Linked DNA regions of Homo sapiens. The protein of the gene in region 2 interacts with the protein of the main gene of each other region in a biochemical or structural test. Each region holds a gene or a part of one and is shown on either strand. Other genes may lie near its edges.

What was found.
Region 1: the proteins of SCTR (region 2) and CPAMD8 interact in a test that uses a peptide from one of them, tested with the Homo sapiens proteins (one study listed by BioGRID).

What each region holds. Positions count from the first base shown.
Region 1 is NC_000019.10:17,023,781-17,031,214, forward strand, and holds the start of CPAMD8 (C3 and PZP-like alpha-2-macroglobulin domain-containing protein 8 precursor), read right to left. Parts: upstream 3,031-7,434; 5' UTR 3,004-3,030; coding exon of another isoform or gene 2,863-3,003; coding exon 2,771-2,862; intron 2,696-2,770; exon of another isoform or gene 2,464-2,695; intron 2,353-2,463; exon of another isoform or gene 2,234-2,352; intron 1-2,233.
Region 2 is NC_000002.12:119,521,217-119,528,659, forward strand, and holds the start of SCTR (secretin receptor precursor), read right to left. Parts: upstream 3,268-7,443; 5' UTR 3,011-3,267; coding exon 2,939-3,010; intron 1-2,938.

The DNA.
Region 1 (7,434 bases), on a different chromosome or scaffold from region 2:
CATGTTGGCCAGGCTGGTCTTGACCTCCTGACCTCAAGTGATCTGCGCACCTTGGCCTCCCAAAGTGCTGGGATTACAGGCCCACTGCACCTGGCCTCAATAGTGTCTCTAGAACAACCCAACATCCACATGCAAAAAGATGAATTGAGAACATTACCTCACACCATGCAATTAGATTAACTCAAAGTTAATCTTAGTAACAGATCTAAATTGAAGAAGTAAAACTTGTAGAAACACTAGAAGAAAACAAAGGAGAAAGTCATTGCATGCTTAGATTAGGCAAAGATTTCTTGAGTAAGATACCAAAAATAAGATCCATAAAATAACTCACTGATAAACCAAACTTCATGAAAACATCATTACCAATTTTGCATCTCAAAAGACGCAGTGGGTTTGTGTTGTTTCATGCACACGAACAATGGGTTTGGGTTGTTTACTGCAGCCCTGGCCACAGTGTGCACTGACCCTGTGATCATAGTGTGCTACATCTGCCTTGAATAATTACCAGAGTTCAGTCCCCTGGGATCACACATGTGCTGTCCAACTCTAGGACCAACTGGAGTTTGCAAGACCCTGGGTATGTGCTGTGTATTACATAACTCCAGCACTGACCAGGACATGCAATTACCCTGTCCAGGTGTCCTGTCCAGCTCCAGCACTGGAATGTGGCATCCTTTAAAAGGGGAATACTCTTTCTGTCTGGCTCCCAGCTGATCCCTAGAGTTTAGACGGGCCTCACATATAGTACATGGTGAGTGTAGAAGAGAGAGTAAGGAATACGTGTTCATTTTGCTTGGTCACCTTTGAAACTCCTGACAATACGGGTTCAAGTCTTCATCCAACTGCCCAGAGAAACTGACATCACCAAATTAAGTTTCCCTGCCATTCAGAAGTTGCAGCTGTTTCCAGCTGTTGGGATGCTTGCCAGCCATTCACTGTCACACCTGACCCACCCCTAGCATCTGGGCCAACACTGCTTCTCATCCTGCTGGTCTCAGAAGGTCCCAGATTGGGGAAAGGGATGTCTGGGTCAGTGTAGACAGAATTGCTCTTACAACTGCAAACTGTGCTGCTTTCTGGGATCAGAGATTCCTCACACAAAAATCTCTCAGGTGACAGAAGTGGGCATCCAGAGCTATTCCTAAGACGAGATCCTTTGGGCTGGGTGAACCATGCCCCTGGCTTAGAGGCCAGCTAATCTGGAATCCCAGGTCGGTCATTTGGGGACATCTCTTCCCCAGTGTGTCTCTCAGCACAGGGATTCCATGTCACTTAACAGATGGTAAGATCACAGGGTGACTTTAGTCAGAGGAAAACGCCCTGGAGAACTGTTTAAAACTCTCTAACGGGCCAGGCACGGTGACTCACGCCTCTAATCCCAGCACTTTGGGAGGCGGAGGTGGGTGGATCACCTGAGGTCAGGAGTTCCAGAACAGCCTGGCTAACATGGAGAAACCCCATCTCTATTAAAAATACAAAAAATTAGCCGGGTGTGGTGGCACACGCCTGTAATCCCAGCTACTCAGGAGGCTGAGGCAGGAGAGTCATTTGAACCTGGGAGGCGGAGGTTGCAGTAAGCCAAGATCGTGCCATTGCACTCCAGCCTGGGCAACAAGAGTAAAACTCCATCTCAAAACAAAAACAAAAACAAACCCCAAAAACAACAAACAACAAACAAAAACCTCTGTATAAGGCAGGGTCTCTCATTGGAGCCAAGGTCTGTCATGTGGGGCCGCGTCATTCCTTGCAGTGGAAGCTGACCTGCACATCGAAAGCTGTTTACCAGCATTCCTGGCCTGCACCCACTTAATGCCAACACCAAATGCCTCTCCCTATTTGTGACAACCAAAAATACCTCCAGACATTTCCCAGCGGCCTCAGGGAGACAAAAATCCCCCCCAGGGCTGAGAACCACTATTCTAAGGGATGCCAGCTTTGAAAGAAGCATTAGGATGAAAATTTGTAGGGTTCCGATTTCACGAAGCCTAGGAGAGGGAAGTCTGGATGCTCAGAGCGCAGTAGACTGTCTTGCTTTTAAAACTGTGACCAGCAAGGACCAACTACTCACTGCAAATAACGACACCCACCTAGTCTCACTGCTTACCAGTTTTCTGGAAACTCCTAAACAAGGGCTGCTTGAACAAGCCGCCTTCTAAACGCCCAGCTGGACTAAAAGGCTGGTCTTGTGCAGACCAGGGCAGCCCCCCTGAACCCGCAGCCCTGCAGAGCTCACCCGAACTTGCCAGGTTTAGAAATATTCTCTGTGAAGCCAACTTAGCAGTACTCCCCAGCAGTTAGTTAATTCACCTTCTCCCCGCTGTCAACCCACCAGAAGCCTGCAAGCAAACCTCTAGAAAAATGTAGAAGCAAAACAAACACTTCCTCCTCCCTCACCACGCCCACCCACGGGAAAGTGCCCCTTCGCACTCTCCTCCCACTTCTCAGCCAAGACGCTCCTCTTACCTTCATACCTTGGACAACTGGAAATCGCCACCCATGATGACAGCCCGGGTCACACGAAGGGGGCGAGGTGGGGCGGGGGGAGCTGACCTCAGCACCTTTAGCTTTTGGGAGTCCCTGTACCTCCACAGAGCCACTTCGGAAACTTTAGGGCGCCCCCTCCTCAAGACGATTCGGGAACAAGAGGCCAGGTCCAGCCCAGCGCGGAGGCTGTGTGGCCTTGGGCAGGTCGCTGCAACACTCTGAGCCAGTACCCGCGACCCCCACCCCAGAAGGCGACCGACCTCCTCTGTCGCCGGAGGATACTCACGGGGCCTGAGGCTGCGCGGCGCGCACGCCGTCCCGCGCCGACAGCAGCAGGAGCAGGAGCGGGAGCAACGGCCAGAGCAGGGCGCCGCTCATTTTTCGGCTCCTGGGGGGCGCCGCGCCTGGGGAGGGGGCCGGGCCAGGGCTGGGCCAGGGCCAGGGTCCGAGCGCGGCCGTCCTCGCGCCGCCGCCGGGGGCCCTTTGTTCGCAGCCCCCGCGCAGTGCGCCCGGCGCCATGCGCCCCGCTCCGCGCCCGGCCAAGCTGGGGCAGCCCCGGGCCAGCCCCCTCCCCGGACCCGCCTCGTCTCCGGGACCGCCCCGCTCGCCCCGCTCGCCCCGCTCCTGGGCGCACCCTCCCGGGACGCCTGCTCCGCCCATCTCCGGACCCCGACCCGCCCCGATCCCTTCCGGGGATCGTCCCCTCACTTACTCACCGGACCCACCCGGGCCCTGCCCGATTCCTTCCGAACCCGCCTCCTCACCCCCTACCCGGATTCGCCCCCGGATGCCCCCCTCCCCACCAGCCCCGCCTCGGACCCGACCCCCCACCGCCCCCACTCTCCCTCTCCTCTCCACCCAGCGTCCACTCGGAACCTGTCCCTTCCCTGGCCTCTCCCTCCCTCCCTCCCCAGCCAGCCCCTTATGGCCCCCTCCCCGGGCCCGCCCCTCACCAGGGGCCCCTGGGTCTGGACGCCGCCTGCAACCCCGATCCCACAGGCGCCGCCGTGCCCTAAGCCCTGGCCTGTATCTAGTGCCCAGTGCAGTGCGTACAGCCCAAGGAGCAGAGGACCCTTTGGGGAAACAGTCTAGCCAGGGGTCGAACCTCCCAGACTCACATCTGCCCCAGGTCCCTATCTGTGCTCTCTGCTCCCCTCTCCCCCACCCCCACTGTCCACAAATCCCTTGGGCCCGTCCCCTCTCTCGCTGGGCCTCAGAGTCCCCCTTTCCCCTTCATACAGCAGGGGTGGATGGGCACCCCCTTTCTCTCCAAGAGCAGGGTGTCCCCTCCTGCCCCTCCCCGTGTGGCCACCTCAGTGATGGTCCTGCTGTCCTAGGTCCCACTGGCAGGCGGCACATCCTATACCATGTCCAAGTCCTGGACCCCCTCCTTCCAGTGTGGAACCCCCTTCCCCCAGCTACCAACTGCCCTTCTTCTAAAATTCCAGTGCTGACCACACCCCCTCCTGCCCGGAATCCTCGGGGCTCCCTGTTTATTTTACATTTTATTTTTATGTTTTGAGACCAGAGTTTTGCTCTGTTGCCCAGGCAGGAATTTAGTGGTGCAGTCACAGCTCACTGCAGCTTCAGACTCCTGGAGAGTAGCTGGGACTACAGGTGCAAGCCCGCACCCAGCTAATTTTTATATATTTTTTTTTAGAAACGGAGTCGCACTGTGTTGCCCAGGCTGGTCTTGAGCACTGGGCTCAAATGATCCTCCCTCCTCAGCCTCCCAAAGTGCTGGGATTACAGGTGTGAGCCACCACATCCAGCCAGGGCTTCCCGTTTATTGAGACCAAATCTAAACTCTGGCTTTGATGGCAGAGACCTCAGCCTAGTTCCTCCAACACCCTGTTCTTACTCCACTGCCTGCTTCTGCCTAATCTCTGTCTTCCTCTACCTGCCTCCTTTGCCAGTCCAACTCCTGATCCTTCCAGGAAACTCAAGGGAAGCTTCTCTTGCCCCCTCCCTGCCCCTAGGGATGTGGGTCCTCTGGGGGCTTCTCAGCCCTGTCAACAGCCTTTGGACCCAACACTGATCACCCAGGCAGCACCAAGCCCTGGGCTGGGCAATGAGGACCCTGGGACATACAGGACCTGCTGCCACTGAGCACACAACCCAGAGGGGACGTAACTGATGATGGTGTGTTGGTGTGTGTGTGTGCGTGCACGCGCGCAGGGGCCGGAGTAGATTGAGTAGCCGTCTCTCCTGCCTGGAGAAGAGGAGGAGCTGCCTGCCTCCAAGCTCAGACCAGGCCAACCCCAAACAGGCTGCTAAACTCACATGGAGGTGCAAAAATCTAGCACCAAGAAGCAGCATCTGATCTCACCCTCATCATCGAAGTTTGCCCCATGCCACCCCTCCGGGCCCCTCCAGGCCAACTCTGACTCCTACCTAAGCCAACCTCCACTCCTCAGCCTCCAGGCCAGCCTTTGAGCCCTCCGCCTCCCCCTTGACCATTGGGCTCTGGCCACATTTGCTCCTGAGATACATCAGACCCCCACCCACCACCACCATCTTGGGCCAAGGTGCCAGCTGTCCCCTCTGCCTGGGATGCACTTCCCCGTGGCATCACAAGACCGGCTGCTCTCCTCCACCTTCAGGGTTAGCCCGGAGGTGCCTTCCCTGCCTGCCTGGTTTGTAAGGTCTAAAATGTCAGTGCTGCCTTGGCATGGTTGAGCCACACAGGACCACGATGTCCTGACCGACCGTTCAGCTACTCTTGCCAAATATGCCCCCTGCCTGGCAAGAGAAGCTGCTCTCCACCTGGCTGTCTCACCAAGCAACCAGACCAGCTGCACCCCACCCATCAGCCACAGACTTCACTTCCCTAGCTGCTGAGAAGTTATTGAAACAAGCCATGCCCAGTCGTGGTGGCTCATGCCTGTAATCCCAGTACTTTGGGAGGCCGAGGCAGGTGGATCACCTGAGGCCAGGAGTTCAAGACCAGCCTGGCCAACATGGTGAAACCTCATCTCTACTAAAAATACAAAAATTAGCCAGGTGTGGTGGTGCACACCTGTAATCCCAGCTACTCGGGAGGCTGAGGCAGGTGAATCACTTGAACCCAGGAGGTGGAGTTTGCAGTGAGCCGAGATTGCGCCACTGCACTCCAGCCTGGGTGACAGAGTGAGACTCCGTCTCAAAAAAAAAAAAAAAAAAAAAGAAAGAAAGAAACCAATCACATCCTCCCAGGAGAACCAGGGGCTGCCTCACCCTCTTATTACTACAAAGCCTGCTTCCCACAGCCCCTGCTTGTTCATTGTGCTCCCGAGTGCAACCCCTGTGTGGCCTCACACAGTGTACAGGGTCCTCCTCCCGTCATTGTGTGAGAATAGGTGAGCACTAAACTGTAGATCTCACCCACCCAATGTCACATGTTGTATGTTTGGCCATCTCATACTCTTTTTTTTTTTTTTTTGAGACGGAGTCTTGCTCTGTCGCCCAGGCTGGAGTGCAGTGGTGCGATCTTGGCTCGCTGCAAGCTCCGCATCCCGAGTTAACACTTTTCTCCTGCCTCAGCCTCCCAAGTAGCTGGGACTACAGGCACCCGCCACCACGCCCGGATAATTTTTTGTATTTTTAGTAGAGACGGGGCTTCACCATGTTAGCCAGGATAGTCTTGATCTCCTGACCTCGTGATCCGCCCTCCTGGGCCTCCCAAAGTGCTGGGATTACAGGAGTGAGCCACCGCGCCCGGCCTATTTTTTTTTTTTTTAACGGAGTCTCACTCTGTCACACAGGCTGGAGTGCAATGGCGTGATCTCAGCTCACTGCAACCTATGCCTCCCGGGTTCAAGCGATTCTCCTGCCTCAGCCTCCCAAGTAGCTGGGACTATAGGCGCCTGCCACCATGCCTGGCTAATTTTTGTATTTTTAGTAGAGACAGGGTTTCACCATGTTGCCCAGGCTGTTCTCGAACTCCTGACCTCATGTGATCCACCTGCCTTAGCCTCCCAAAGTCCTGGGATTACAGGCATGAGCCACTGTGCCGGGCCCATCTCATACTATTTAGAGCAGCAGTCCCCAACCTTTTTGGCACAAGGGACAGGTTTCATGGAAGACATTTTTTCCATGGACAAGGGGCAAGGTGATGGGAGGGACAGTGATGGTTTTGGGATGATCAAGTGCGTGACATTTATTGTGCACTTTATTTCTATTATTGTTACATTGTAATATAATGAAATAATGATACAACTCACCATCGCGTAGAATCAGTGGAAGCCCTGAGCTGTTGTTTTCCTGCAGCCAGAGATCCTACCTGGGGGTGATGGGAGACAGTGGCAGATTATCAGGCATTAGATTCTCATAAGGAGCATGCAACATAGATCCCTCGCATGCACAGTTTGTAATAGGGTTTGGGCTTCTCTGAGAATCTAATGCTGCCGCTGATCTGACAGGAGGTGGAGCTCGGGCGATAATGTGAGCGATGGGGAGAGGCTGTAAATACAGATGAAGCTTTGCTTACTCATCCAATATCAGACCAGTGTCAGTCTGTGGCCCAGGGGTTGGGGACCCTTGATTTAGATCATGGGTGAATAGGAGCCAATGAGGACACTAGCATGGCCCGGTCATCCAGTTTGACTGCATGGTACACAAAACACAGAGCATGGTCTTATTATTCCATACACATCTGCTTCCTGTCTGTCTTCTTTGGGATGTGAGCCCCCCGTTTGCTGCTGGCCGCAGCCCCTGGCTCAAAGTGGGCACACCTCACACAGATTACTGCCTCATCAGCACACGGGAGAAGGCTCGCTGCTTAGAAGAGTCAGTTGATACTATTCCATGAATTATACAAGCCTGAGTTAACAAAGCCATGACTAAAAACTAAATTATACCGATTTGCAATGAAACACATTATACAGGTTGAGTAGCCAAAATGCATTATCGGCCGGGTGCAGTGGCTCACGCCTGTAATCCCAGCACTTTGGAAGGCCAAGGTGGGTGAAT
Region 2 (7,443 bases):
CCTTGAGTGACTCTTTCTCTACAGCCTGACACATTTCTGTACAATTTAGCAAGTAAGGAGTGCTTTCAAGAGGTGATTCTTCCTTATTTGTTGCTGCATCAGCATGATTTCATTCAGTCATCCATGCATTCATTCAACAAACACTCACTGAGCTCCTTCTTACACTGTGACAGACTCTAGGGATGAAAGATGAACAAGATGAGTCTCCATGTTCAAGTTCAAAGTGTGCATATTGGGGTTTGGGGGACAGATGTGTTAGTAAATAATTACAGTAATGTTCCAGGTAAAAGTTCTCATGAGATGTATGGGGGTGGGGCCGCAGAGGGGGCTGTGATCAGTATTTCTTATAGGGAGGCCTCAGAAAACTGCCCCATTCGGCCACTTTTTGGGTTTCACTTACAAGGGTCACTTCTGACGCCTCCCTATATGGAGTAGAGGGAGAGCGGTAATAAGCAATTTGGCCTCACTGACCCCCCTCCATTGGGAAGATGCCTATAATCTCCCTCAAGGGGGAGCTTCAAATGAATAAAAAATTATTTGAACACACTTAGATTTCAAAATCAAATGTGTGACCACCCAGAGTCAAACAGAAGGAAAGCAGGGCTCCAGAGGCTGGGAAATATTCCAACCAAAGTAGGTCAGTTCCACTCCTATTTATTACAGGAGTTCTCAGCCAAGAAGTGTGAGATCTAAGGTCTACAGAAGCCGTAAAATAACCCAAGGACCACGACTTATACACAGGAAACCATCTTGTGATTATGTAAGGCAGTAATGCACATTTGAAAATACAAGGGACCGCCGGGCGCGGTGGTTCATGCCTCTAATCGCAGCACTTTGGGAGGCCGAGGCAGGCAGGTCACCTGAGGTCAGGAGTTTCAGACCAGCCTGACCAACATGGAGAAATCCCATCTCTACTAAAAATACAAAAAATTGGCCGAGCATGGTGGCACATGCCTGTAATCCCAGCTACTTGGGAGGCTGAGGCAGGAGAATCCCTTGAACCTGGGAGGCGGAGGTTACAGTAAGCCAAGATCGCGCCACTGCGCTCCAGCCTGGGCAACAAGAGTGAAACTCTGTCTCAAAAGAAAAAAAAAAAAGAAAAAGAAAAAGGAAATACAAGGGGTATAAAAGACAGAGCCCTGGATGGTTGGGAATCAAGAGATCTGGGTGCTAACCTTAGTGGGTTAAGTGGGGTATGTGGGGCGAGTAGAGCTGCTAGTCCCGGCTCTACTACTAACTTGCTGATCTCGGGCAGCTCCCTTCTCTCTGAGAGTCTCAGTGTGCTCATTTTTAAAATGAGGGATTGGGACCATAGCATAATGAAGCATCCTTCCAAGGTACACTGAAGACTTAAACCAAGTGAAGCCTCTCATTTTCCCCTTCCATTTATTCCTGTGATAATCCAGGGATTTCCTTGAGATAAAAATGTAGGCTGAACCTCAGTCCTGCACTCGAGGTACCAGTTACGACAGTCTCAGAGTCACTGCAAATACTTAAGAAGGAGGCTGGGAGGGTCCCAAGGAAGGAGCTATTGCCTCTCCCACCCCCAGCCACGGAATAACACACCTTCTGGCTCTACCTGGCTTTGCACTGTCCCCAGTATCCCAGTTGGCATTTCTCCAAATTGGGAGTCAAAACTCATGAGTGCATGCTGTTGCTCTAGCGTCTTCCAAGGCCAGCACTGCCACTGAAGAGAGGAGGCTCCACGGTGGCAAGGGAGCTCCAAGCAAGCTCCAAATTGCACTCATCCCAACTACTGCTGCTGAAAGTCTTGGGGCTACCAGAAAAATGAGCATCTCCTGAGTGTCAACACTCTGGTCGGCTCCGGGAGCATTGGTTTTCCTTATAATCAAACCAGAGGAGACTAAGGGAAGACAAGGAGGCTGGACACCATGAGACTTGCCCAGGACAGAGATCAGAGACTCAGTTGGGTCCCCAAGCGCGTTCCCTGGGGAGCTTCTTGGAAGAGACGACTTGGGGACCAATTTGGAATGCTAGTGGGAAGGGATGATTCTGGAATCTGGCCCCCACCTCTAACCCCCACTCCCTCCCCATTCCTTCCTTTCTGCTGGTCTGGGTGGGGCCACTCTCTTTATCAGAGATCCCGGAGCTCAGAGAGGCCCGGGACTCCCAGGAATTTCTGTTGGAAAGAAAAACAAACCACCCATCCTGCCGCTATTATTATTATTATTATTATTATTATTATTATTATTATTATTATTATTTTCCTCCTCCAGCCCCTTGCCAGGACCTGGCTTTGGGGAACAGCAGCGCCCTGGAGCCACCAGGCACGCAGACATTAGGGAGCCGCATCCCACACGAGACGGTGTGGGGAGAGCGGCAGGCGGTCCCATCGCAGACCCAGAAGCTCCTGCCAGAGCTCCCTCAGGTTTTCCCATCCGCAGCCCGTGAGTGTGAAAATGTCAAGGTTTGGGGGCAGACTGATACTGATGTGGGTTCCAATCCTCTTTTTCTGACTTGCAGCAAGAATTTTTATTCCCCCTCTCCTCTCCTTTCCTTTCCTTTCTTTGTCTGTAAAGTGACGGTGATAATAGCAGCCTCGAAAGGTGATTACCAGGTTTCAAGGAAAGATTGGAGGCAAAGCGCCCAGGACACAGTAGGCACTGCCACGGGCGGCTCCAGAATTTCCGTGTAGGAGAGTTTCAGAAGCCAGACCAGAGGAAGGGGTCGGTGGTGGGCACAGGGATTCATCTTAGAGCCGCCTTCGTCTGGCGCGCACGATGTTTTTCTTTGGGAAAGGGTCCCTCCGGAGAAGAGCTGGGAGAGATTAATGTTGGGAGGATTGGGAGGGAAGAGTCCCTATTCCTCATGGGAAGATCTGCTAGTCCCTCTCCACCTGCATCCTGCCCGAGGCCGGAGAAAGGGCGAGACTGTCGCTCCCTCGGGTCCCCAGCCTGCAGAAGGGCGCAGTACTCACCGAGTGCGCGGCGCAGGCGAGCAGCACCGGCAGTAGTAGCTGCTGCAGCGGCGGCGACAGGTGGGGACGCATGGTGCCCGCACGTTCCCCGAGGGCGCCCCGACGTCCGCCTGCCCGTGCCCTCTGCCCGCTCGGGAGCTCAGCGCCCCGCGCAGGGTCCCGGGCTCCGGCCGGCCGCTGCGCCCCGAGGAGCCATGGCTGAGCCACCCGACCTGCGGCGGGCCCCGGGACTGCTCCTCCTCGGACCAGGTGGCCGCGCGCGCTAAGCCGCCCGCCCCATTGATCAGGACGCGGCTTTGCCGGCGCGCCTCCTCCACCCGGCAGGGACTGGCGCGGGGTCGGCGCGGAGGCTGGCAGGGGAGGAGGCAGAGGGAGGGCGCGGGGACCCGGAGTCGGCTCCCGCAGGCTGGGCCCAAGCTGGAGGAGGCCAGGAGAGGGCACGCTGGCTTAGCCTTCTACGCGGCAATCCCGCCCAACCCCGGGTCCGGAAAGAGCACTGTCTCTGGAGTCCACGGACAGAAAGCGCAAGCTCGCTGGGGGCCGGTGGGCAACTTAGGTCACCTTTGTAAGCCTCGGCTTTCTCATCCCTAACAACACGTCTGATAATACCCACTCTCGGACTGAAAGTTGTCACACAGTCGAGGCCCATTGCATCTATTCCCCCCGATAGCTACCTTGCACTTTATTTCCGATTTTTTCATTATTGAAGTCATTAGCGCTAATTCCATGAAGTTTCACTCCCATGAACTCCTCCTTTGATGATGACCAAGGAGGATCTGTGGTACACTCAGGCATCTGGGGACCGTCCTGAGGATGAACCCCCTGGGAGGCTATTTAAGCCTCAGGCAGGTAGTCCCAGTAGCCCTCTCCATCGGTGCTGTGTATCCTGGAGGTTTGCTTTTGGCCTCTTAGTACAAGGCGTCTCTTAGTACAAGACGTCCTCTTAGTACAAGGCGTCTCTTTTGGCCTCTTAGTACAGGGCGATGGCCCTTTTTTACTGTTACATAAAAAAGAGAGTCTCACCATGTTGCCCAGGCTGGTCTTGAACTCTTGGGCTCAAGAGATCCTCTCACCTCGGCCTCCCAAAGTGCTGGGATTACAGGCATGAGCCACTGGGCCCAGCACTAGATGGGTCTTGCAAACTCAATTTTCCTTAGTCTGCACTGGTGCCCACTCCCTTCCTTCTTCTCTCTCCTCCTTTCTTGATCTTTCTCCCAGGCACTTTAAGTACATCAGCTCATTTAATTCTCCCTCACACCCCTAGGTGATACGATGTCCATTTGACAGAGGAGGGCATTGGAGGTGGAGGAGGATTCATTACATGTCTGGGTACTGCAACTCAGAGGCTCAGACAGGAAAGCCTGAATCTACCCTTACATGGCTGACCCGACTCTCTGTAACTGGCCCTTACGCAGAAGGCCATGCAGCTGTTAAGGTAACAATGTGTTGTCCTTAGCAGCCTTCCCTACCGGAAGAGACTATTAGTAAATTGAGGCTGGTAAATCCCAGCAGAAATAAAAGGGAGGAAAATCCATTCAGCTCCTAGGTCCAAAACCAATGCTCAGTACACATCAAACCTAAAGTATACATAATCACCAACCCCCTGCTAGAAACTCTTTCTACATAAATACTCACCCAAGGGCCTAATGAAATGTGCAAGGATGTTTGCGGAAGCACTATGACAGTGGCAGGAAACGAGATGATATATGGGGAAAGGGAATCACCCTTATTTCTTTCTTTCTCATGGGCAGCAGTCATTACTATAATGCTCCTGACTTGTTTCTACCCCTTCCCTCTCTCTGTCTGTCTATCCCCCACCTCTCTCTCATGTGCACCCACACGCAAGCATGCATGCAGGCACGTATACACAGGTGAGGCCAGCTTACATGATTGATGCATTTGGAATAAGGAACTGGCATGAGTTCGGTCCCCTCCTCTCTCCTTCCTTTGACAGTGTGCCCCCCTACAGAGAGCCTGTAACTGGATTTCCCTGGGCCAGGCTGTGATTAGTGGTCGAGGCTCTACTGGAACTGGTCCAGTATGAACTGTTGTCTCTCTAATTCTGGGGTTTAGTTAGGAAACCCACTTGCCTACAAGTATAAACCACATTCTGCAATACTGACTTTATAAAGTGATATTTGGCCGCATCTGTCTTGATCTTATTTCTCAATTGGTTCAAGTTTCAGGCTAGAAAGAAAAATGTTATTTCCTAGGCTGCTTGAACCGCAGCACCCTAAATATCCATCGCAAAGTGCCTGAGGTAAGGACTTGCAATTTTTACTATACAGATTTCTGTGTTGTTTGAATGTTTTCTGTAACAACGCTGCGTATGGCTGTTTGGCGTTGAAATAAATAAAAAGAAAACAACACAAAAATGCAATCCGTGCTTTATACCAGAGCTTCGTGATATCTGATGAAAAAACAAAACAACATTAGTTCTGGGCAATTCAATACATTTCTGGCCTGTAGCAAGCCATTCTTGCTTAAATGGGAAGCTCTGCCTCTCAGAGAGTTGAGAAAAGGGATTGAAGTGCTCCCTGAAAGGTCCTTAAAACCTGCCTAAGACAATTTCACAATAGGGGTAGAAGGGAAGAGGTAGGAAAACTAACCATATATTTACCACCTGTCGTGTGCTGGGGAGTCTGTTAGGAAGCTCGGGTGTGTTATCATATCCAGTCCTCCAAGACCATAAAAGAGATGGGAACTTGAGGCTTAGGAAAGATAAGTGCTTGCCTCCATCAGCACAGCTAATAAGGGGAGGAGCCAGGATTTGAATTCAGGACTGAGCCCAAGCCTGTGTCGTGAAGGAAACAAAATATTTCACTCTATTATTTGACATATTTTGAGATGGCTGTTCAGAGGGCCTCCAAACAGAAGTAGCCCTGCAAGGCTGTCTTTTACTGGGGAGATTGCATCTGGAGAGAGAACTCTGCACTGATGCAGCCAGGCTTTCTCTGTGGAACCTCCCATATCCAGATCTAAGAAAGGTTAACTGAGAGTTCAACACCTTAACTGTCTGAAAGACACACACACACACACAATCTGTCCTCTCTTAGGCCTGCTACCTGTGAGGTTTCATCTGCATAACAAGCCCAACTTTACCAGCCAGGCCTCCTCTTCTCCACCACCCCCCAACCTATTTTGCCACACACCATAAGCCCCCATTCTTCCTGTAACTTCAAGATGGAATATGAAAGCGTCCACCCTCTGGCCATTTCTTTGAGTTGTGTTTTGAAAGACTCCTGTGCACATTTTAAAATTTGCATGCCTTTTCGCCTATGAATCTGCCTTTTTTTTTTTCAGTTGATTTTCAGTGGAACTTCAGAGGGCAAAAGGGAAGTTTTTCCTTGGTGCCTAGAGCTCTTTGCATGGTACTGGGATTCCTCTCCAACATGGAGATGGTCTCCTTGTACTTAGGCTTCACAAGCTCTTTTGTGTGCATCTTCTTATTAATTAACAGAGCTCTGTGAGGTAGGTAGGGATGAGCAGGCAGGGGCCTGGCAGAAGAAGGAGAAACTGTGGCTCAAACGGTTTAATCAAAGGGAGTTTAATGAAAGGACTATGTGCAGAGGGTAGGCAGGAACCAGCAAGGGATGGTGAGGTGGAGGGATCGGCAACAGGAAGTCTGAAGGGTGACGAAGACTCTCCTTGACTAAAGTTTAGTCAGGCTCCTCTAGCCCTCTTCCCAACTAAGCTTTGACCTTGGCCCCCCGTCCTGTTTTCAGTTTCCCTAGCCCAGTCTCGGTAAGGATCCTGTGAAGTGAGTTTAGGAAGATCTCCTACTCCACTCTTGATATCTCATCACTTTTGATATCTGCTTCAGTTCCTCATTCTCCACCTTTGATATTTAAGCCCTTGGTCTGCCTTTAGCAAGAATCCTATTTAGAAGGGTTTAGCAAGAATCCTGCCAGCACTGATATCTCCTCTTAGTAATTTTCCATCCACTGACCCTTACCCTGCACCTGGGCTGTAAATCTTCACTTATCCCTGTTGTATTTGGAGTAGAGCGTGATTGCTCCTCCCCATCACAAAGCCCCTGTTGCTATAGTCTTGAAATAAATCATCCTTACCATTTTGGCAAGTGTCGCAATAACTTTTTCTTTAACAAGGGGCAAAGAGTGAAAGCAGTGCTTCTAAAAGCTGGCAAGAGTTGTTCTTGGGAGAGAGGTCACCTATAAGGGCTGTTGGGGCTCAGAAACTGTTACCCCAAAATGTGGCATTTTGACATGCTGATCTGAAGAAGGCTTAAGGTCTATCTGACCTTCCCCTCTACCCCTGCCCAACCCCTGTCTCTCCCAAAGCATAGGACGAAGCTGTTCCCTGAAGTTTCTTTATCTGCCTAAAGTCAGGACCCACCAAGAACAATTGTTTTTCTTCTCCTCTCTGGTATCTCATTATCTATTACAGAAAGAAGACCAAGAATGTAACCATACCTCAACAGACCCTTTTACAAGATGTTTGTGTCTCAGACTCCTTCAATTCCAAAGAAAGCTATTTACAAGTTA